Linked DNA regions of Homo sapiens. The protein of the gene in region 3 interacts with the protein of the main gene of each other region in a pairwise test. Each region holds a gene or a part of one and is shown on either strand. Other genes may lie near its edges.

Evidence for each region. The genes of interacting proteins can lie anywhere in the genome.
Region 1: the proteins of MUC1 (region 3) and CYP4F2 interact in binary tests that used the Homo sapiens proteins (3 or more experiments, as listed by UniProt).
Region 2: the proteins of MUC1 (region 3) and ARV1 interact in binary tests that used the Homo sapiens proteins (3 or more experiments, as listed by UniProt).

Annotation. Positions count from the first base shown.
Region 1 is NC_000019.10:15,880,665-15,888,330, reverse strand, and holds part of CYP4F2 (cytochrome P450 4F2 precursor), read left to right. Parts: intron 1-2,022; coding exon 2,023-2,089; intron 2,090-2,277; coding exon 2,278-2,407; intron 2,408-7,666. UniProt on the Homo sapiens protein: A cytochrome P450 monooxygenase involved in the metabolism of various endogenous substrates, including fatty acids, eicosanoids and vitamins.
Region 2 is NC_000001.11:230,988,838-230,996,503, forward strand, and holds part of ARV1 (protein ARV1), read left to right. Parts: intron 1-1,272; coding exon 1,273-1,426; intron 1,427-1,738; coding exon of another isoform or gene 1,739-1,861; intron 1,862-6,922; coding exon 6,923-7,147; intron 7,148-7,666. UniProt on the Homo sapiens protein: Plays a role as a mediator in the endoplasmic reticulum (ER) cholesterol and bile acid homeostasis. Participates in sterol transport out of the ER and distribution into plasma membranes.
Region 3 is NC_000001.11:155,189,267-155,197,849, forward strand, and holds the start of MUC1 (mucin-1 isoform 10 precursor), read right to left. Parts: upstream 3,650-8,583; 5' UTR 3,578-3,649; coding exon 3,520-3,577; intron 3,045-3,519; coding exon 2,642-3,044; coding exon of another isoform or gene 2,282-2,641; intron 2,041-2,281; coding exon of another isoform or gene 1,715-2,040; intron 1,386-1,714; coding exon of another isoform or gene 1,223-1,385; intron 1,222-1,222; coding exon of another isoform or gene 1,114-1,221; intron 937-1,113; coding exon of another isoform or gene 1-936. Other genes in the region: THBS3 (thrombospondin-3), read right to left, coding at 6,575-6,633, 6,721-6,860, 7,775-7,947, 8,197-8,393. UniProt on the Homo sapiens protein: The alpha subunit has cell adhesive properties. Can act both as an adhesion and an anti-adhesion protein. May provide a protective layer on epithelial cells against bacterial and enzyme attack.

The sequences.
Region 1 (7,666 bases), on a different chromosome or scaffold from region 3:
TATTTGTGTGTCTGTGTTTCTAAGTCTGTGACTTCATCTATGTGTGTGCGTCTGTGTCTATCTGTGTCTATGTTTATGTGTATTTGTATTTGTGTGCCTGTGTTTCTAAGTCTGTGACTTTGTCTATGTGTGTGTGTCTATGTCTATGTTTGTTTATGTGTATTTGTGTGTCTGTGTTTCTAAATCTGTGACTTCATCTATGTGTGTTTGTGTCTGTGTCTATGTCTGTGTTTATGTGTATTTGTGTGTCCATGTTTCTAAGTCTGTGACAGTCTATGTGTGTGTGTGTCTGTGTCTATATCTATATCTGTGTCTATGTCTATGTTTACGTGTATTTGTGTGTCTGTGTTTCTAAGTCTGTGACTTTGTCTATGTGTGTGTGTGTCTGTGTCTATATCTGTGTCTATGTCTAGGTTTATGTGTATTTGTGTGCCTGTGTTTCTAAGTCTGTGACTTAGTCTATGTGTGCGTGTGTCTGTGTCTATGTCTATGTTTATGTGTGTTTGTGTTTCTAAGTCTGTGATTTTGTGTATGTGTGTGTATGTCTGTGTCTATATCTGTGTCTATGTCTATGTTTACGTGTATTTGTGTGTCTGTGTTTCTAAGTCTGTGACTTAGTCTATATGTGTGTGCCTGTGTCTATATCTGTGTCTATGTCTATGTTTATGTGTATTTGTGTGTCCATGTTTCTAAGTCTGTGACTTAGTCTATGTGTGTGTGTGTCTGTGTCTATATCTGTGTCTATGTCTAGGTTTACGTGTATTTGTGTGTCTGTGTTTCTAAGTCTGTGACTTTATCTATGTGTGTGTGTCTGTGTCTATATCTGTGTCTATGTCTATGTTTATGTGTATTTATGTGTCTGTGTTTCTAAGTCTGTGACTTTGTCTATGTGTGTGTGTGTCTATGTCTATGTTTATGTGTGTCTGTGTTTCTAAGTCTGTGTTTTTGTGTATGTGTGCGTATGTCTGTGTCTATATCTGTGTCTATGTCTATGTTTACGTGTATTTGTGTGTCTGTGTTTCTAAGTCTGTGACTTAGTCTATATGTGTGTGCCTGTGTCTATATCTGTGTCTATGTCTATGTTTATTTGTATTTGTGTGTTTGTGTTTCTAAGTCTGTGACTTTATGTGTGTGTGTCTGTGTCTATATCTGTGTTATGTCTATGTTTATGTGTATTTGTGTGTCTGTGTCAGTTTCTAAGTCTATGACTTTGTCTATGTGTGTTTGTGTCTGTGTCTATGTCTTTGTCTATGTGTAGGTCTATTGTGACAGATGCATTAAACCTCTAGATCAGAGCAGCCCATGTCTTGCTCACAGCAATACTGTTAGCCAGAGTGGGATTGTGGCACTGGCTCTTCATCCTCAAGTCAAATTTCTCCAAGGGTAATGTTTTCACTTGTATGTGCAGCAGAGTTTGCATCCTAAGAGAGGGGCCCTACATTATGAGTCTTGGCACATTTTCTATTTCTTCCCAAGAAAGAGAATGAGAGAGACAGAGAAAGAGAGAGAGAGAGATTGAGTGAGAATGGTAGCTTTGTGAGAGATGGTGTGCTTTGTTCTGGAGCATAAACAAATCCTCTTCAGTGAGATGCCATAGTCCTTAGCCTTACAACCCAAACGTCTCCAGGGGGATAAGATTCTCTAGATTTATCACTCTAGAATGTGGGCAAATCTTTGAAGCAATACTTAATCTCTAATTTCCAAGGGAAATTGCCATTTAATTCTCCTGTAACTCAGGTTGCCAGTAACTTTTTCTCAGAAACTTTTCATTAAAATATTCATGGGTCATTGAGTCTTCCCAGTAGGAACCCAAGAGGAGGCAAGGAAGCCAGAGAGGAAGGCCATGAGGTGAGGGCTCTGGCCATGGTGACCAAGAGGGGTCTAGGAGTGCAAGATGGACTTGGATTTCTGGAAAAAGGATGAATCTTCAGAGACTGTCTCAGATTAGACTCAAGAGCCCTTAGAGCTAGTGTGACTTTTTATGGGGGTGGGGGTTGGGGGGGGTTACTGCCTTCTCTCCAGGATGAAGACGGGAAGAAGTTATCTGATGAGGACATAAGAGCAGAAGCTGACACCTTTATGTTTGAGGGTGAGGGCCCCAGTGTGGGGCTAGAGAGGGGACCGGGATCTCTCCCTTCCAGGAACAGGGTGGGTAGACCCCCACAACCTTCCCATCCCCCTTCCCCCATCCTCCCTGAGGCCCTCAATGCATGGGTGCTGTCTACCTTCGGGTGCTGAAGCAGCCCAGAGACCCAAGCCTGCCTTGCTGCCCCCCAGGCCATGACACCACGGCCAGTGGTCTCTCCTGGGTCCTGTACCACCTTGCAAAGCACCCAGAATACCAGGAGCGCTGCCGGCAGGAGGTGCAAGAACTTCTGAAGGACCGTGAGCCTAAAGAGATTGAATGGTGAGTGCAGGTGCTTGTGGCCTCTTCCTGAGACCTTCTCATTGGCTCTGCTCCCCAGGTGGGGAGGGGAGGAAAAGCTGTTTTTGTTGATTCTGCCACTATTGCCTAGTGGGAATAGGAGCAGAGGACCACAGGCAGGACTTAGTACCCATCCTGACTGTCTGGGGAAAGGTTATAGGCCCTTAGGACAGAAAGACCTGGGCTTCTGAGAGAGTTGGTGATGATATGTGAGGACAGATAACGCCACTTAGACGTGTTCAGCAAATGAACTTCCCCTCCACTCTCTTCCTTTCCTCCCAGAAATATCATTTTTTTTGAACATCTTCACTTCTTGAATGTTTGCTCTTCTGTTCCCTAATTCCTACTCTCCAGTCGAGTCCAGGGTTTTATAAGGGAGACCTAGGGGTAAAATTCATCCATTCTTGTCCGGAACACTTGCACTGTTCATCCGTCCCATCCTTATTCAGCAAACACTCCCACACTGCATTTTCACCCCCACATCTGTGCACAGCATCTTTCTGTGCTCTGGAGACCTGGGAAGGAACCAACCCAGGGATCTGTTTTCCAGGTGCTCCCAGCCTGGTGGTGGAGCTGTCCCTGGGCAGGACACTCCCAGCCCACATGGGCAGAGATGGGATTTACAGTAAGAGAAGCAGGACTAGGGGGTATAGAAAGTGTCTCAGTTGAGAGCCTAAATAATGATCAGTAGATAATTGGGTACAGTTGGGGGGCAGTGCTCTAGGTCAAGAAGACTGCCTGGGGTCTTTGGGGGAGGAAGAGAGAGGGAGGAAGAGAGAGAGGAGAGCGAGGGAGAGAGAGAGAAGGAGAGAGAGAGAGAGCAGGGTCAGGACAGAAAGGAGGAGAAGGGGAGAGAGAGGGAGAGACTGAGTTGTAATGAGATGATAAAACCGGAGATGGTAGCAGGGGCTGGCTGTGGAAGCCTTGGGGAAAATGTTAATGGCTTCAGTTTTAGCCCAATGGCAATAGGGAGCCATGGGAAGTGTTTGAGCAGTGTAGGGACAGGTCACATCTGGGTACCAGGAAGATCTTTCTAGGGCTAGTGTGGAGGGCGTACTGGAGAGGACCAGCTGTAGAATGAAGGCACAGTGGGGACATTCTGAGACCAGAGCCAGGCCAGGGGCTGGAGGAAGGAGAGGAAGCATTGGAATGGACGGATGTCTTGGATTCAGTGTCCTCTCGTCCACACCTTTGCCCAGCACAGCAGTCCAGTGAGGAGGAGAAACATTTTTCTGCTTTTAAAACCAATAATTTTTCTGCATTTTTAACAAACAATTTTTTATTGCTGCATAAATAGATGCACATAGATTTGAAATACATGTGATAATCTAATACATTCATATAACTGGTAAAGATCAAATCAGTGTACTTGGGATATCTGTCGCCTGAAATATTTAGTCTTTTCTTTATGCTAGAAACATAACTAACATAAGCTAACTATTTAGGAATATACAGTACATATCGTAAACTATAGTGAACCCACTGATCTATCAAGTGCTAGGTTTTATTTCTCCTATCAAACCTCTTATTTATGCCCGTTAATCAACTTCTCCTCACCCCTCCCTCCCTTCTACCAATCTACCTTCTACTTTCATGAGATCCACTTTTTCAGCTCCCACATGTGAGTGAGAACATGCGATATTTGTCTTTCTCTTTTTGGCTTATTTACTTACCACAGTGACCTCCAGTTCCATCCATGTTGCCACAAATGACAAAATTCCAGTGTTTTTAATGGTGCATAGTATTCCATTGTGTATACATGCCACATTTCCTTTCTTCCTTCCTTCCTTCCTCCCTCCCTCCCTCTCTCTCTTTCTCTCTTTCTTCTTTCCTTTCTTTCTTTCTTTGAGACAGAGTCTTGTTCTGTCGCCCAGGCTGAAGTGCGGTGGCACGATCTTGGCTCACTGCAACCTCTGCCTCCCGGGTTCAAGCTATTCTTCTGCCTCAGCCTCCCAAGCAGCTGGGACTATGGGTGCACACCACCATGCCTGGCTAATTTTTGTATTTTTAATAGGGCTGGGGTTTCACCATATTGGCCAGGCTGGTCTCGAACTCCTGACCTCATGATCTGCCTGCCTCGGCCTCCCAAAGTGCTGGGATTACAGGCATGAGCCACCGCACCCGGCCGCCACATTTTCTTTATCCATTCAGTTGATGGGCACTTAGGTTGATTCCATATTTTGGCTGTTTTGAATAGTGCTGCAATAAATACGGAAGTATAGATATCTCTTCAACAGTTTTATTTTCTTTCTTTGGGATAGAAATTTCTTCTCTTTCTTTTCAGTAGTGGAATTTCTGGGTTATATGTTAGTTCTACTTTTAGTTTCTTGAGGAACCTCTGTGCTGTTCTCTGCAGTGGCTGCGCTAATTTATATTCCTGCCAACAGTGTGTGAGAGTTCCCCTTTCTCCATATCCTCACCAGTGTCTATCGTTGCCTGTCTTTTTGATAAAAGCCATTTTAACTGGGATGAGATGATATCTCATTGTGGTTTTGATTTGCATTTCTCTGATGATTAGTGACATTGAGCATTTTTCCATCTATCTGTTGGCCATTTGTATGTCTTATTTTAAGAAATGTCTATTCAGATCTTTTGACCATTTTTAAATAAGATGATTTGAGTTCTTTTTCCCCTATTGAGTTATTTGAGCTCCTTATATAATATATTCTGGTTATTAATCGCTTGTCAGATGAGTAATTTGAGAATATTTTCTGCCATTCTGTAAGTTGATTCTTCACTTTGTTGACTGTTTCCTTTGCTGTGCAGAAGCTTTTTACCTTGATGTAATCTCATTTGTCTATTGCCTGTGCTTTTGAGGTCTTAACACAGAAAATCTTTGCCTGGACCCATGTCCTGGAGTATAAAATCCAGATTTCAAGCAAAATTATGGATGTGGTTAAAAGAAAGGGTCCAAAAAATTTTATGATAAAAATGAGCTTCCTTATTAAGCTCCACCTTAGCAGTGACTATGGTCAACAGTTTTCTGTGTATTCTTCCAGAAAATGGCTATCCCAATGCCCACATTTATATGAATTCACACTGTGATTTTTATTTATATGAACACATACTGTGTTTTTCTTTGTAAAGAAAACTATACAAAATAGACGCAGTTCTGGACATTATCTCTGAGATCTATTTTTCTTAAAATACGAGTTTTCAAAAATGAGTTTGTTTTTAAATTGTTCTTTCATTGATAAATTTTAATTATATATATTAGAGGTACAATGTGATGTTATGATGTATGTATACAACCTGAAATTATTAAATCAAGGTAATGAACAAATCCATCACTTCATATATTTATCATTTTTATGTTGAGAACATATATATATTAGAGGTACAATGTGATGTTATGATGTATGTATACAACCTGAAATTATTAAATCAAGGTAATGAACAAATCCATCACTTCATATATTTATCATTTTTATGTTGAGAACATTTGAAATTTACTCTCTTAGCAATTTCAATTAATACATTGTTCACTAAATCACCATGCTGTGCAGTAGATCTCAAAAACTATTCCTCTTGTCTAACTGAAGCTTCTATCCTTTGACCAACATCTCACCCTTCTCTATCCCTCCCTCAGCCCTGGCCTCTGGTAACCATCATTCTGCTTCTATTTCTTTTCTTTTCTTTCTTTCTTTTTTTTTTCATTTTTGAGATGGAGTCTCGCTCTGTCACCCAGGCTGGAGTGCAGTGGCACGATCTCAGCTTACTGCGACCTCTGCCTCCCAGGTTCAAGTGATTCTCCTGCCTCAGCCTCCTGAGTAGCTGGGATTACAGGCTCCCGCAACCACGCTTGGCTAATTTTTTTGTATTTTTATTAGAGACGGGGTTTCACCATATTGGACAGGCTGGTCTTGAACTCCTGACCTTGTGATCTGCCGCCCTTGGCCTCCCAAAGTGCTGGGATTACAGGCGTGAGCCACCGCGCCCGACCTCCACTCCTGTTTCTATGAGCTTGACTATTTTAGGTCCCAAGATAAGTAAGATCATGTGTGTTTGTGTTTCTGAGCCTAGCTTACTTCACTTAGCATAAGTTCCTCCAGGTTCTTTCATGTTGTGGCAAACAAAATAAGTTTTCTTTCTTTTTTTTTTTTTAAGGCTGAATGGTATTCCATTGTATATACACACCACATGGAAAATGAGCATTAAATTATAAAACCAGTGATAAGAACAGATTCTTCTTGCACCAAATGAGATATTACAGATAAGACTAGCTTTTTCCTTGACAATCCTGCCACCCCACCTAATCCTTTCTCATTCTCCAAAGGTGTCTCCAGAGCCATAGATTTGTTATCTATCTATCTATCTATCTATCTATCTATCTATCTATCCATCATCTATCTATGTATCTATATACCTATCTACTATCTATATATCATCTATGTATCTCTGTTTCTATCATCTATGTATGTATCTGTCTATTCTCTATCTCTCTATATCTCTTATTTATTATCTGTCATCTATCAATCTATCATCTATCTCTGAATCATTAATTTCATAAATATATATTCATATACTTTTTGCCCTTTTTATGTGCACAAATGTATATATTTGTAACTTGTTTTCACTCGACAGTGTGTCTTAATGCTATTTTTTTCTGAATGCTAAATATTTTATTCCTTATTTATTCAGCTCATTCCTATGTTGAATGCACATAAACATTTTCAGTTATAGTAGATATTTCCAATTTGCCTTCCACAGTGTCTGTACTGATTTACCTTCCAGCCTGCAGAATGTGATGAGACTAGTGATCCCTATTTCCTCCTTTTGTGTAGCTGTATAGTATTCCATCGTGTGGCTGTTTATCTAAACATCTTCCCATCAATGTGTATGTGGCTTGTTTCCAACCTTTTGCTAAAAGTGGACATGAGGCAGTCAGCATGTGTGCACAGTGACCATTCCTTGCATGTATAAGCATCTCTGCAGGACAAATTCCCTGAAGTGCAATTGCTGAATCAAAGAACATTTGCACTGTACAATTTTAATTATCATTGCAAATCCTTTCCTATTAGCTGAGTTTGATGGCACAAGTTTTCCCATAACTTTACCAATACTACTAATGTATTATTAAATTTTAAAATCTATGCCAATCTTCATATTTCTTCTTTTGATGGACATTGTTTTAAATAAGAGTGAGGTTGAACATCTCTTTCACGTGTTGATGTTTGTTTCTTTTTATGGAAGTGGTTCCTTTATTTTTTTGCTCTTTTTCTTTGGATTCTTTAAAAATAT
Region 2 (7,666 bases), about 76 Mb from region 3:
ATACTTTGCTATTAAAGGAATGTATAAGGTAAATAACATTCAGTTTAATCAAAGTCCTGATTTATAAAGTTGAATTTTTCAAAATAAACTTTTAGTTTATTGAATTGTGAGCTCTTTAATAGTTTGGGTAGAGTTGACAGATAACATACAGGACAGTCAATTAAATTTGAATTTCATATATACCATGAATTAATTTTTTAGTATAAGAATGTCCCAAATATTGCATGGAACATACTTATACAATAAAAATGGATTCATGGTGTGTGTGAAACTCAAATTTAACTGGCGGTCCTGTTATTTTATTTATTTATTTATTTTTGAGACGGAGTCTTGCTCTGTCACCCAGGCTGAAGTGCAGTGGCGTGATCTCGGCTCACTGCAGCCTCTACCTCCTGGGTTCAAGTGTTCTACTGCCTCAGCCTCCCAAGTAGCTGGGATTACAGGCACGCATCACCAAGCCCAGCTAATTTTTGTATTTCTAGTAGAGATGAGGTTCGCCATGTTGACCAGGCTAGTCTGGAATTCCTGACCTCAAGTGATCCTCCCACCTCAGCCTCCCAAAGTATTGGGATTACAGGCATGAGCTACTGTGCCCAGCTCTTCCTCACTTTATATTGATGGAGAAAGTTCAACCTGAAGGAGGAATACATAGAAAAAAGCCAATTTTTGTTGCCTAGTATTTTTTATTTTAGCCAAAATTTCAGACTTTTAAGAATTAGGTTTTAATTGTTCTCTTTTAACATATTGAGTCATACTCATCCAGCTGGAGATATTTTTAAAAAACTGATGTTCAGACTAATAGTTTCTTATTCAATATCATGGAATCTTCAGATTAAGTCTATTCTCTTATTGCTGTTCCCACATATACATGAATCACATAAGTTTTTTGCTTGATTCTGTATAAAGGACAGAAATCAAAAATGTATAATGAAAGGTGAACTATTATTTAAAGCAGTGATTCTTAACTAGGGGTGCACATTAGAATCCCCCCAGAACTGTTTCAAAGTATGATGTCTATGTTGTACTATGAAGATTCTCAATCAGGACCTGGGCTCAGACATTTAAATTTTGAAAAAAATCTCCCCATGTGCTTCTGATGGACATTGCTGATTAAAACTCACTGATTACAAAATGACTACAATTAGCCACTTAATTGGGCAGTCCTGAATTTGAAAAGTGACTAGGTGGGATGCCACAAATACTCTGTACCTGTTGATACTAGTGCAACTGGGTTTCCTTACCTAATTGAATGGCAATGTCTTTGACTATCAGATCCATGGAAAACTCTGCATATTTTGTTTGCTTTGTGAAGCATACCTGAGGTGGTGGCAGCTTCAAGATTCCAACCAGAATACTGCCCCTGATGACTTGATCAGATATGCTAAGGAATGGGATTTCTATAGAATGTTTGCGATTGCTGCTTTAGGTAAGGAGATGCCATGCTTTCCATTCTTAGTTAACTATTCTTACTTAACTAATCTGGTTAAAACTAAGACATGTAGTCTTAATTGTTGGTAAGAAGAGCTAGTTAATATGGGACTTAAGATGAAATTTTCAGCTCTACCACTACTAACCTACGAGGTGAGTGTGTTTGAATCACCTGCTTTTTAAAAATTTGTTACCACGTATATGGTATGGAAGTAGTTATGCTTATCGGATTAGAAAGTTTCATAAAATATTTCGAAGCACAATATTGTTGATAAAATTCTTTTATTTTTATTATTATATATTTTTTAAGACAGGGTCTCACTCTGTTGCCTAGGCTGGAGTGCAGTGGCACAGTCACAGCTCACTGCAGCCCTGAACTCCTGGGCTCAAGCAATCCTCCTGCCTCGGCCCCCCCAGGTAGCTGGAACCACAGGTATGCACCACCACACCATGCACCACCTCCAGCTAATTTTTGTATTTTTTTGTTGAGATGGGGGGTCTTTCCGTGTTGCCCAGGCTGGTCTTGAACTCCTGAACTCAAGCAGTCCTCCCACCTCAGCCTCCCAAAGTGCTGGGATTACAGGTGTGAGCCACTGTGCCTGGCCAATAAAATTCTTAATGTTTAAGTTTTGATTATCCAATCTGAAAGTTAGCTAAGTCCTATCTTTATTAATAGAGATAATTGCCAGACATTACCCAATGTATTGTACTAATTGCATTATACTAATGCAGTGTATTTAATAGGGTTTGGTATTTTTTGTTACTTGTTACTTATCTGAGTGCATGCAGGGAATTTGGCTACTCCTCAAAATTCCTTAAGTTCAGGAAGTGCTTTTCAGAATTTCACTTCATAAGTTATTGTTTTCCTAGTGTCAGAATTGTGTTGAGCTAATTTCTGTGACTATTTTATTGCTAGTTCCATGCTTCTCTGCTTCTCAACTCTTTGATTATAATGAAATCTTACTTTAGTAATACTAAGTCTCCAGTCCACTCCAATATCACATTTCTGGGCTGTGTGTCTTCTTTTGTCCTCTTTTTTTCTCTGTCTGCTCTCGCTCTCTTGGTCATGTAACCTGTCTGCTGAGAACTCTCAAATGTCCATCTAGACCTTTCTCCAGACCTCCAGACTCTGCATCCCTCTGCCTTCTCAACATCACCACTTGGATATCTAATAAATCACCATACCCATAATTGAGCTCCTCATCTCTCTGCCTCTACCACAGCCTTCTCCTTCTCAGTTGTAACTCCATTCTTTTAGTTGCATTCACCAGAAAACCTTGCAGTCATCCCTGATGCCTCTTTCTTTGATACCCCATAGTCAGGTCATCAGGAAATCCCATTGGCTCCACCTTCAAAGTACTTCTACTTTTTTTTTTTTTTTTTTGAGACGGAGTCTCACTCTGTCGCCCAGGCTGGAGTGCAGTGGCGCGGTCTTGACTCACTGCAACCTCTGCCTCCTGGGTTCAAGCAGTTCTCCTGCCTTAGCCTCCCGAGTAGCTGGGATTACAGGCACGTGCCACCATGCTTAGCTAATTTTTGTATTTTTAGTAGAGACGGCTTCACCATGTTGGTCAGGCTGGTCTCGAACTTCTGACCTCGTGATCCGTCCGCCTCTGCCTCCCAAAGTGCTGGGATTACAGGCATGAGCCACTGCGCCCAGCCACACTTCTACTATTATACTACTGCTACCCTCCATTCCCTCCACGGCTGCCACACTGTTGCAGGCCACTCTCATCCTTCACCTGCATGACTACAGTAGCCTCCTTGTTTGCTAGCCCAGTTCTCCAACTGTGTATTTGCACGCAACACAGAGTAGTCCTTTTCAACCAAATCAGATCATGTCACTGTTGTGCTAGAACACAGTAGCTCCCCGTTTCACTCAGAGTGCAAGCTGAAGTCTTTACAGTGGGCCTTGTACTGGAATCTGCCCCTCCCACTGCGTCTCTCATTTTATCCACAGCTGTCATCTCCCATGTCTACTCTGACCCTCCCCATCTAGTTAACTTGCTTCAGAAACACTGGATGAGCTTCCACCTTAAGGCCTTTGAAGTGGCTCTTCCTGTGCCCGGAATGCCTGTCCCCCTGATGCCCAGATGTCTGACTCCTGCATACCCCTCAAGAGTTGGCTAAAATGACACTTTCTAAATGAAGTGTACCTCTGACACTCCTGATCTCCTGTTCCGGCTCTACTTTGTTTTTCTTATGGTACTTACTATTTAACATATCACAGAAGTTATTATCTTTTGTTAGTGCCTTTCCCCACTAACATGTCAACTGAATGAGGTCAGGGCTCTTTGTGTTAGTCACGGTTGTAGCTCAAGCACTTAGGTGCCTGGCCCAGGTGCTTAATAAATATTTGCTCAGCTGATTGAATGAATGATTGCATACATTCATCCACGCACTCTTAACTTGAGCAAGTCACCATCAGTTACACTCGGTGATTATTCATTCACTATTCATTATTATTCATTCCCTTAAGAAATATTTTTAAATACTTATTAGGTGCCAGTTACTACTTTAGGTACTTTAGGTACTAGAGATATATCCATGGAAAATACATAGAAAAATCTCCGCCTCCATTATTATGTAATTACTAAGGCTTATGACAGCTTAACCGCCATGATGTCCAGTCTATCGATAATTTTGTATACAATTTGGACTTTGCAACAATTTAAAATATTTGAAATATACAAAAGAATATGTTAACCTTTTTATCTTATGAAACATAATACTACTGAAAACATCCTTGAGCACATCATCTAGCCCAAGAACTAGAACCTAATATGATTTTAAACCTTAAAGCAAAGCCTCTTAAAAATTTTTTTTAATTTTTATTTTTTTAAGAGTGAAGGTCTTGCTCTGTCACCGAGGCTAGGGTGCAGTGGCACAGTCATAGCTCACTGCAGCCTGGAGCTCCTGGGCTCAAGGGATCCCCCTGCCTCCGTCTCCTGAGTAGCTGGAACTACAGGTACATGCTACTGTGCCTGGCTAATTTAAAAAAAAAAATTTATGTAAAGGCAGTATCTTACTCTGTTGTCCAGGTTGGTCTTGAACTCCTGGGCTCAAACAGTCCTCCCATATGGGCCTCCCAAAGTGCTGAGACTGCAGGCATCAGCCACTGTTCCTGGCCCTTCTTAAAATTTCTAAAGATAAACTGTTATATGTCCATATTTTGTATATACTATTAAAAACCAGGCTTGTTTTTAAATGGGTTGGAATTCTTATAGCAACTACTCTGTAGTAGATATTTTGATGCTTAATCAGAAGTTTCTTTCTACTATTACTTAACTTTTTTATGTGTCTTAGTCTAATCCCTAATTAGACTGTATAGTCCAAAAGAATATCTTGGCCGGGCGTGGTACCTCACACCTGTAATCCCAGCACTTTGGGAGGCCAAGACAGGTGGATTACTTGAGCTCGGAAGTTGGAAACCAGCCTGGGCAACATGGCAATATTCTGTCTCTACAAAAAATACAAAAATTAGCTGGGCATGGTGGCATGTGCCTGTAGTCCTAGCTACTTGAGGGGCAGAGACAGGAGGATCGCTTGAGCCCAGGAGGTCAAAGCTGCAGTGAGTCATGTTCATGCCACTGCACTTTTGCCTGGATGACCAAGACAGACTCTGTCTCAAAAAACTAAAAGAATATCTTACATAAATAAAGCATTTTATAATTTAAAAACTGCTTTTACAGGAATTATTTAATTTTCACAATCATCCTCTGAGGTAGGTAGGTTAGGGGTTCCCCCATCTATAGCTGCAGAAACATAGATGCATAGATTTTCCCGAAGTCTCACAGTGGGTCACTAGTGCTGAAACTGAGGAAAGTCTCCCGACCCCCTTCAGTGTTTTCCACACTGGAGTATTCTATACGTAGGTAGCAGCTCCTTCTGAACTGACCTGATTGATGAGAGCCTGAGGGCTGGTGTAGTTCCATAAATCTCGTAAATCCTAAATTTAAAAGATGTGGAGGTTATCTAGTCTAGCCTGTGTGGCGCAAGAAATCTTTCTGTCTAGACTCCTGAGAGATGCTGTAGCTTTGAGTGTCTCCAGTGACAGGAGTCAACCCACCATTGTTAGATGGTTCTTGTTATTCGCTATTCTTTCACTATTTATTCATTCAAGGAATTATTTATTGTTATTTTTATCCAAAATCCAAGCTTTACAATCTACCTGAGTACATTCTTGTAGCTGACAAGTCTTTTAGTTATTTTGAAGGGAGATAGCATGTCTCCCTTGAAGAATACATCATATTTCATGGAGGTTAACCATCCTAATTTTTTTTTTTTTTTTTTTGAGACGGAGTCTCGCTCTGTCGCCCAGACTGGAGTGCAGTGGCACAATCTCGGCTCACTGCAAGCTCCGCCTCCCGGGTTCACGCCATTCTCCTGCGTCAGCCTCCCGAGTAGCTGGGACTACAGGCGCCTGCCACCACTCCCGGCTAATTGTTTTTTGTATTTTTAGTAGAGACGGGGTTTCACCGTGTTAGCCAGGATGATCTCAATCTCCTGACCTTGTGATCCGCCTGCCTCGGCCTCCCAAAGTGCTGGGATTACAGGCATGAGCCACCATGCCCAGCCCCTAAATTATTTTTATTGATCCTAATTACCTACATTTGGAACCTCTTTAGTTTGGCTTTATTAAGTTTAAAAAAGAGGATAGTTGTTTCTGCTGTAATATAATACATGTGTCCAGAGAAACCTGATTCTGCAGAAACCTAAACTGCTAATAACATAGCTTATATGGGAAAAAATAAAATAAGGGACTGGCCACTCAGAATGGATACAGTTGGGTAATCGGATGACTAACAATCCTAATAAAAATTACAGCACAGTTAAAAGAGATGTTAAATTCCTAGTTAATAGAAGCTGAACAGATTGTGCTGTGTTCTGACCATAGGACACAGTGGAACTATTGCTGCTGTTAATCTGGACTCTGTCCTATGAATACTTTCTGGAAGTGTAAGGAATTGCATTTTAAAATGTTGTTAAAATGAGTAAAGGAAGTCTCAGTTAACAATATTAAAAAATCATGTGGATAATAGGCACTTAAATAGTGGAAGAATGCACAGAGAAAAATGTCTTCCTGTGTTATCCCATTCTTACGATAGGTCCCATCTTTCAGACTGAAAAGCCTGCATTCTCCTGTTTTATTCTTTGGAGATCTCTTACACTGAAGATGTTTAAGCAGAATCTTACTTCCTTCAAGGAACTTCAGAAAGTTGATGATTACAATTCTAATGGAGTTACTTTTTCTTCAGTGGATAATGTTTCTGAAATTATACCAGCAGGATCTAATACAAAAGCCAGGGGTTTATTTAAAAAAAAAAAACAACACACAAACAAAAAGAAGAAGAAAAAGAGATTGTGATCTTGAGAAAGTATTTCTTATGAAGTCAGCTGATAAGCTGTATTTTAGAATGGTGGTTTATTTGTTTTTAAGGGGATATATTTTGGATGGGGACATTCATACTTTTATTTTCCATTTCTTCTTTAGAACAAACTGCCTATTTTATTGGCATTTTTACCTTCCTGTGGGTAGAACGGCCCATGACGGCAAAAAAAAAGCCCAACTTCATTTTGCTGCTGAAAGCATTATTATTATCTAGCTACGGAAAACTCTTGCTGATTCCAGCTGTCATTTGGGAACATGACTACACATCTGTGTGCCTCAAACTCATTAAAGTATTTGTTCTTACATCAAATTTTCAGGCAATTAGAGGTATGTTTATGTGTTTATTCTGCCTTCTCAGTTTTCAACCCATAAAAAGCTTAAAGCCTTGTTTCTGGGGTGCAGTTTTTATATAACCTGTTGAACACTGGAATTCTTCATCGCATAGTAATAATACCTAACACTTCTATAGCACCTTATACATAGCAGGTACTCAGTGTTTGTTACATTTAACCATATAGTACTTTATAGTTTTCAAAATGCTCTCATATGCATCATCTCTGTCCTGTGAGGTTAGTAGAACTGCCATTATTTGATTTTATGAATGAGCTCCTGGGGCTCTGAGGGTTAAGTGGCTTGTCCGACGTTACATGGCTGGGCAGTTATCAAGTCAGGAGAGAATGCTGAGTATCTGCCTCTCAATCCAGGACAATTTCTACTATATCAGGAAGAGCAGCCCTGTGTGTCTTCATTTTTCCCATATATTTTACATAGTGCTATTTTATTTATTTTTATTTTATTTATTTTTTTGAGATAGGGTGTCACTTGGTCACCCAGGCTAGAGTGCAG
Region 3 (8,583 bases):
TGGGCTGGGGGGGCGGTGGAGCCCGGGGCCGGCCTGGTGTCCGGGGCCGAGGTGACACCGTGGGCTGGGGGGGCGGTGGAGCCCGGGGCCGGCCTGGTGTCCGGGGCCGAGGTGACACCGTGGGCTGGGGGGGCGGTGGAGCCCGGGGCCGGCCTGGTGTCCGGGGCCGAGGTGACACCGTGGGCTGGGGGGGCGGTGGAGCCCGGGGCCGGCCTGGTGTCCGGGGCCGAGGTGACACCGTGGGCTGGGGGGGCGGTGGAGCCCGGGGCCGGCCTGCTCTCCGGGGCCGAGGTGACACCGTGGGCTGCTCTCGCGGTGGAGCCCGGGGCCGGCCTGCTCTCCGGGGCCGAGGTGACACCGTGGGCTGGGGGGGCGGTGGAGCCCGGGGCCGGCCTGGTGTCCGGGGCCGAGGTGACACCGTGGGCTGGGGGGGCGGTGGAGCCCGGGGCCGGCCTGGTGTCCGGGGCCGAGGTGACACCGTGGGCTGGGGGGGCGGTGGAGCCCGGGGCCGGCCTGGTGTCCGGGGCCGAGGTGACACCGTGGGCTTGGGGGGCGGTGGAGCCCGGGGCCGGCCTGGTGTCCGGGGCCGAGGTGACACCGTGGGCTGCGGGCGCGGTGTAGCCCGGGGCGGGCCTTGTGTCCGGGGCCGAGGTGACACCGTGGGCTGGGGGGGCGGTGGAGCCCGGGGCGGGACTGGTGTCCGGGGCCGAGGTGACACCGTGGGTTGGGGGGGCGGTGGAGCCCGGGGCCGGCCTGGTGTCCGGGGCCGAGGTGACACCGTGGGCTGGGGGGGCGGTGGAGCCCGGGGCCGGCCTGCTCTCCGGGGCCGAGGTGACACCGTGGGCTGCGGGCGCGGTGGAGCCCGGGGCCGGCCTGCTCTCCGGGGCCGAGGTGACACCGTGGGCTGCGGGCGCGGTGGAGCCCGGGGCCGGCCTGGTGTCCGGGGCCGAGGTGACACCGTGGGCTGGGGGCGCGGTGGAGCCCGGGCCAGAACTGCTTTCCGGGGCCGTGGTGACTCCGTGGGCTGCGGGCGCGGTGGAGCCCGGGGCCGGCCTGCTCTCTGGGGCCGAGGTGACACCGTGGGCTGCGGGCGCGGTGGAGCCCGGGGCGGAACTCTCCGGGGCCGAGGTGACACCGTGGGCTGGGGGGGGGGGGGAGCCCGGGGCCGGCCTGGTGTCCGGGGCCGAGGTGACACCGTGGGCTGGGGGGGCGGTGGAGCCCTGGGGCCGGCCTGGTGTCCGGGGCCGAGGTGACACCGTGGGCTGGGGGGGCGGTGGAGCCCGGGGCCGGCCTGGTGTCCGGGGCCGAGGTGACACCGTGGGCTTGGGGGGCGGTGGAGCCCGGGGCCGGCCTGGTGTCCGGGGCCGAGGTGACACCGTGGGCTGCGGGCGCGGTGGAGCCCGGGGCGGGCCTGGTGTCCGGGGCCGAGGTGACACCGTGGGCTGGGGGGGCGGTGGAGCCCGGGGCGGGCCTGGTGTCCGGGGCCGAGGTGACACCGTGGGCTGGGGGGGCGGTGGAGCCCGGGGCCGGCCTGGTGTCCGGGGTCGAGGTGACACCGTGGGCTTGGGGGGCGGTGGAGCCCGGGGCCGGCCTGGTGTCTGGGGGGGCGGTGGAGCCGGGGCCGGCCTGGTGTCCGGGGTTGGAAAACTGGGCTGGGGGGGCGGTGGAGCCCGGGGCCGGCAGGGGTCCGGGGCCGAGGTGACACCGTGGGCTGGGGGGGCGGTGGAGCCCGGGGCCGGCCTGGTGTCCGGGGCCGAGGTGACACCGTGGGCTTGGGGGGCGGTGGAGCCCGGGGCCGGCCTGGTGTCCGGGGCCGAGGTGACACCGTGGGCTGCGGGCGCGGTGGAGCCCGGGGCGGGCCTGGTGTCCGGGGCCGAGGTGACACCGTGGGCTGGGGGGGCGGTGGAGCCCGGGGCGGGCCTGGTGTCCGGGGCCGAGGTGACACCGTGGGCTGGGGGGGCGGTGGAGCCCGGGGCCGGCCTGGTGTCCGGGGCCGAGGTGACACCGTGGGCTTGGGGGGCGGTGGAGCCCGGGGCCGGCCTGGTGTCCGGGGCCGAGGTGACACCGTGGGCTGCGGGCGCGGTGGAGCCCGGGTCCGTCCTTCTCTCCGAGGGCCGAGGTGACATCGTAGACTGCGGGCGCGGTGGAGCCCGGGTCCGGCCTGCTCTCCGAGGCCGAGGTGACACCGTAGACTGGGGGGGCGGTGGAGCCCGGGGCCGGCCTGGTGTCCGGGGCCGAGGTGACACCGTGGGCTGGGGGGGCGGTGGAGCCCGGAACCGGCCTGGTGTCCGGGGCCGAGGTGACACCGTGGGCTGGGGGGGCGGTGGAGCCCGGGGCCGGCCTGGTGTCCGGGGCCGAGGTGACACCGTGGGCTTGGGGGGCGGTGGAGCCCGGGACCGACCTGGTGTCCGGGGCCGAGGTGACACCGTGGGCTGCGGGCGCGGTGGAGCCCGGGGCGGACCTGGTGTCCGGGGCCGAGGTGACACCGTGGGCTGGGGGGGCGGTGGAGCCCGGGGCGGGCCTGGTGTCCGGGGCCGAGGTGACACCGTGGGCTGGGGGGGCGGTGGAGCCCGGGGCCGGCCTGGTGTCCGGGGCCGAGGTGACACCGTGGGCTTGGGGGGCGGTGGAGCCCGGGGCCGGCCTGGTGTCCGGGGCCGAGGTGACACCGTGGGCTGGGGGGGCGGTGGAGCCCGGGGCTGGCTTGTTGTCCGGGGCTGAGGTGACATCGTGGGCTGGCGGGGTGGTGGAGCCCAGGGCTGGCCTGGTGACTGGGACCGAGGTGACATCCTGTCCCCAGGTGGCAGCTGAACCTGAAGCTGGTTCCGTGGCCGGGGCCAGAGTGACATCCTGTCCCTGAGTGGTGGAGGAGCCTGAACCGGGGCTGTGGCTGGAGAGTACGCTGCTGGTCATACTCACAGCATTCTTCTCAGTAGAGCTGGGCACTGAACTTCTCTGGGTAGCCGAAGTCTCCTTTTCTCCACCTGGGGTAGAGCTTGCATGACCAGAACCCGTAACAACTGTTGCGGGTTTAGGGGCTGTGGTAGCTGTAAGAAGTTAAAGTCATAGGGTTGGGTCTTTATGAAGGAAAAATAAGAGCAAGAAGAAAATATAAGCTCTGGCCACCAGAGAAATAATACCAGGAGGACTGGGGAGTGGGCAGCCTCAGTAACCCCTGGGTTGGCCGCCTCCTTCCCTGCAGCAGCCTCCTTCTCTCTGCCCATAGGCCTTGGCTCATGGCCCCTGCATTTCTTCCCCTCTTAAGCCTTCCCTCTCCCTACTCTCTTCCCCCTAGACTTCTCTACAGGACATTTGCTTGCCCCTGGTACCCACTCTCAGGGTTGGGGGCAACTCTTCTCAGCCTGTCCTTAGCCTCTCCCTCCTTCTGGCACAGACAGGGCAGCCTCTGTCTGCAATTCTTACCTTAACTTCATGGTGCCATCTGCCAGGGAGCAAAACCCACAGAAAGACCACGAAGACCACCTAAGCAGGGCAGCCCACTCCCCACCTCGTGCCCCTCACCTGTAAGCACTGTGAGGAGCAGCAGCAGGAAGAAAGGAGACTGGGTGCCCGGTGTCATGGTGGTGGTGAAATGGGTGGGGAGGGGGCAGAACAGATTCAGGCAGGCGCTGGCTGCTTGAGAGGTGGAGCGGGCACAGGCGCCTACCGCTTTATACCGGTCCCCCCACTCCCCGCCCGCCCGCCCTAGGCACAGCCGGAGCAGGTGACAGGTGACAAAACCCCGCCCCCTCCCCTACCTCCTACCTCTTCCTCCTCCTCCCCAACCATTCCTGGGTAGGGTACAAGGGCTCTAATCGCTCAACCCCCTGACTACCCGTTTGTTCTCCAGCTGGCCTCCCCCTTTCACCAACCACTCCCTGGCTCCGGGGGAGGGGGGAGGGGCAGTCTGGAACTTGGGGCCCCTGGGCTCTAGTTTTAGCCTCAGGGCAACAACTAACGTGGGGATGGGGAACAAAGCCAGCTAGGTCGAGGTCCTGTACAGCAAGGTCGGGAAGCCCACCCCTAGGTCTCCCACTCCACTTCCCCGCCCTCCCCGGGTCCACTGAAGCAGAGCGGGGCCGAGAAATAAGAGGGCTGGATAATGAGTGGACTAGGTGCTAGTTTTGGGCTCCCTCCCCCCACCACTTCCCGGAATAGCCCCACCCTTCTAACCGCTCCCTGTCCCGTTCCACACGCAGTTCTACCCTGAAACCCACAGTCCCCGCCCCAGCCGGACTTTCCAGCAGCCTGGGTTCCCTCCTTGGAGAAAGCCAAGGAGGGAGTGGGGGAAGAAATTTCCACTTAAGGGAGTAAACCTGGGCTCCGATGAACCCTAGGGTCCTTCCTTGCCACTCTCCACCACTGGCCAGGAGCTCCTCCCGCCCTCTAGTGGTCACCGGGAGCCTTGCGGGGCTGGGCCGCGCAAGCTGAGGGGCCGCTCGGACCGGGCGGAGAGGAGTAAGGGCAGCGCTGCCTAAGTGAGGCAGCGAGAGCCCGCGAGAGGGAAGCAGGGCCCGGGAGAGAAGGGTCACTGCCGTGGCCAGGGAGGGAGGAACGCACAGCATGGTGGACGGCTGGGAGCTTTAGGAGGGGGCACTCCGGGACGCGTGGTGGTGGCGTCTGGAGGAAATGGAGCTAAGCGGGTGGGGTCCTGAGGTATGTGGAAGGGGCACCGAGGTATGTGGGAGAGGACGTTGGAACGTGGGCGGGGGAGTTGGACACGTTCTGTGTGGGCCGTTATGTACTTAAGAGGCAGATCGGGCGTGGCACGGTGGCTCACGCCCGTAATCCCAACACTTTGGAAGGCCGAGGCGAGTGGATCACAAGGTCAGGGGTTCAAGACCAGCCTGGCCAAGATGGTGAAACCTCGTCTCTACTAAAAACTACAAAAATTAGCCGAGCGTGGTGGCGGGCGCTGTAACCCCAGCTACTCAGGAGGCTGAGGCAGGAGAATCGCTTGAACCCGGGAGGCGGAGGTTGCAGTGAGCCGAGATCGCGCCATTGCACTCCAGCCTGGGCGACAGAGCAAGACTCCGTCTCAAAACAAAAAAGGGGGGGGCAGAGAGTAGGTGGGGTGACAGAATGGGATTTACGGACACAGAACTATCCTTTGGGGAGCAGAGTGGTATTGGGGACAGGTAGGCACGTAGCGGGGGGCAAAAGCACACGTGAGGTGCGTAATGCGCGACAGCCAAGAGGTGTGTGCGGCAGCAGTGCACGAGGGGAGGAAGCTATCCCAGGCCGCGGCAGCACGTGGAACTTGGGTCCCGCAGTCGCAGGCTGCGCTCTAGGCCGACGGAAGCAGTTCCGCCTGTATTCAGAAAACAGTTCTCAGCCCCAAAGACACAGGTTGGAAAGAACACTTTAAAAACACTTCGGCGAGGCACGGGATTGGAGCGCATCAGATCAGCAGGCGAGAGACCACAGCTCTCGCCCGCGCGCCGCGCGGCGCCCGAGGCGCAGCTTTGTGTGCGGCGAGACCCTGGGGCAGGCGCTGGGCGGGGTGGGGACATCTGACGTCAGCGCGCCCGGGAGCGCGGGCCGGGGAGGCGGGGAGCCCCCCAACTCGCAGGCCGGAGAAAACACGAGTAGCTAGGTGGGCGGCCCCAAACCTCAACTCCCGGCATTGCCAAGCAACAGCCATTCAGTTCGGTTGCTGGGACACGCGTCACCATGGCGACGGCTCCGCGCCGCGCAGTCTGAGTACTTAAAGAGCAAGCGCGCGCAACGCCCGGGCGTCGGAAAGCGGCCTTCTGGGACTCCGCAAACTCCCGTTCTCCCTCCCCCCTCCCCCTTGCCATTCCCTTTGCCTTCCGGGCGCCAAGTCTCTCTGGCCTCCAAGGTGAACCCAACTCCCCAGCGCGCCCCGGGTTCCCGGGTCGGGCCGGCTTCAGGCGGTGGGGAGCGGGATCCCGGGCCCCGGGCGGGCGGGAGGGACGGGACGCGGTGCAGTGTTGTTTTTTCCCCCGCCAATATTGCACTCGTCCCGGCCTCCGGCCCCCCCGGCCCCCCGGCCTCCCCGCTACCCCTAGCGGGGCAGCCCCCGCCCTCCTGGCTCTCCATCCCGGCGGATCTTTGATAGACTGGAGTGTCGCCGCTGCCACCGTGAGTAAGTGGGTCTGGGAGGACTTCGGGCATCCTCCCTCAGGCACCCTATCCTTCACTTAACTCCATCCAGCACCTCCCCCACCCGCATCCCCAAATCAGCCAAACTTCCCCTAGATCCCTAACTTCCACCCTCCCAGGCTTTCTCTTCTACTCGCCGATTCCTTCCACTTCCCCACCCTATCCCGGAAAATCCCTAAAATAAGCAGTTGCACTGGCTTAGAAAACAACCAAAACTTTATGGCAATGTGCTGTCATCTTTCCTGGGGTTAGTGCCTGAGTAATACCCCTTGAAAACTTCTCATCCCCTGAAGGGTGGGGTGACCACCCCTCTGGGACTGAACTCCTTTTGGGAGCCAGAGAAGGGTCTGTGGTTGGCTGAGGGGCTGTAGCTTAGACCTCAGGGTCTCCAGGATGGACCCCAAGGCCAAAGGGTCTAAAATTCTGAATTCTGAATCTGGTGGCCTCCTCCTCACACCCTTCCCTGGAGCAGCTGCCTCCGGAATGGCTCAAAGTCCTCAGGCACTGTGTCTGAAGAAGGGGAAATAAGTAAGGTCAGAGGATGTGGCTCTCCCACAAGGCATGAAGGATTAGGTTGATCTCAATCAGCCACCTCACCATTGCATCGATACTGGAGATTGGACCAAATTATGTTTTCTTGGGAGAAGCAGAATACACCAAGACGCCCCCCTCGCATGGATGTGTCAATGATCACCCCAGAATCCGCCACAAGCTGGGGTCCCTCATAGAGCTTCACCCTGTCCAGGATTCCAGGATAGGAGTATCCATTGGTGCTAGGGTGCCAGTGGGCACTGTGCCACCATGCCTGGGGCCTTGCTTTTCCCCAGCCCCCCTTGAGCTCACCAGGCCTGAGAGAGAAGGGAGGGAGGGAAAGGGAGGCAGGAAGGAGAGGGAAGGGGGGTGCTTTTCTCAGGCCTGGGGCCCCTAGCTCTTTGTCCAGCTCCTTTTGCATCTCAAAGCACCAGCCGCATTCCAAGCGAGGATTGGGTTGCCATGACAATAAGCACAATGGGCTGGGGGGTGAAGTCACCCGCTTCCCAGGCTCTAGTCCACCCCCTTTTATCCCCTGTCCTGGCACCCCACAGCCCCAGGCACCTTAAAGGGGAACCAACCCAGGTTCCTGGACTCTGGGCTCTTGGCCATGGAAAGTCCAGCCTCTAAGCAGACCCATTTCCCCTCCCTTCCTGTTCATCTCCACCAACTAGGGCTACTTGTTGGAGAGAAATGCAAAGTTGTGGACAAAGTGTTGAACCGAGGCCTGTGAAGTCAGGGCCTTGATTTTCTCTTCTGTAAATGATGATGCCTTCCAGGTCAGATGATCCCTATCCACGTTGATAAGACAGGTTCCAGGTCATACCAACTAAGGGACCAGATGTGATGTGCCCCTTCACAGATTGGCCTGGGTTTGGAGGCTTCTGGAGAACTGTAAAGGGCATCTAACCCAATGCCCTCATTTTACAGACGGGAAAATGGGTCATGGAGGAGTGACTTCACCAACATCACTCATAGGTGCTTGTGTCCGTGGTGAGAAGGGTGATGGAGAGAAGTGGCTGCAGTTCCCACCCATGGAGAGGTCACTGGTGAATCCCAGCTAAAGAGGAAGGACAGGCCCGGCCTGAGTCCCACAGGTGGGCTCAGCCCCTCTCCTTACCGAATGTAGCCAACTTGAGGCCGGTGCAGAAGCTGCCAGCGATAGGAGGTCTTGTCCCGCCAGCCCACATTTCGTGGGTCTGTCCACAGCAGTCGTACCTGATCAGGGGTGTGGCCAGTATGCCACAGGGCATTTCGGAGGTGCTCACCTGGGCCAGACACTGATGTCACTGCCTAGGAGACATTGGCAAAGACAGTGGGTCAACTGCAGAACTGGAGTGAGGGGAGACAACAGGTCGGTAAGTGCAGGTGGGAAAGGGATTCAAGGCGGTCATGAAAATGCCCTGGGGCCCCAGAGAGCCGGCCTCCAAGCCAGATGTCTGGGTAAGAGGGTTCCCAGTCAAGCAGTGGGGGAGGCCCTGGGGCTGCAGAGGAGAGCTTTGGGAAAGGGCCCTGGGTTGCGGAATCTGAGCAGCTGGGGACCTTGAGCTGCAGCCCGGGCTGGGCAACCGCCCGGAAGGGTGTAGCCTGCCAGTAGGTCTGCTCGGTCTGCTTCCACATGACTACGTAGAAGCGGCCACTGTCTTGATAACTGAAGAGAAAGCCTGCGTAGTCATCATCAGTCACTGTGTTCACATGGAAGGTGCCTTCAAAGTCCACACCATTGAAGGCCGTGTATCCTGGGGTGGGGGTGGGATAAAGGTCAGGGGCAGCAAAGCTACTGGCGGCCCATCATGGGGTAAAGTTGGGAAGGGATGCCTGCTATGTATGTGGCCAGCTTGTGCCACTGCCTTCTCTCTCGCCACTTTGCCCATTCTCCCTGTCTGTTTCCTCCCCTACCCTCTGCCCCTATAGGATTCCTCCATTTGG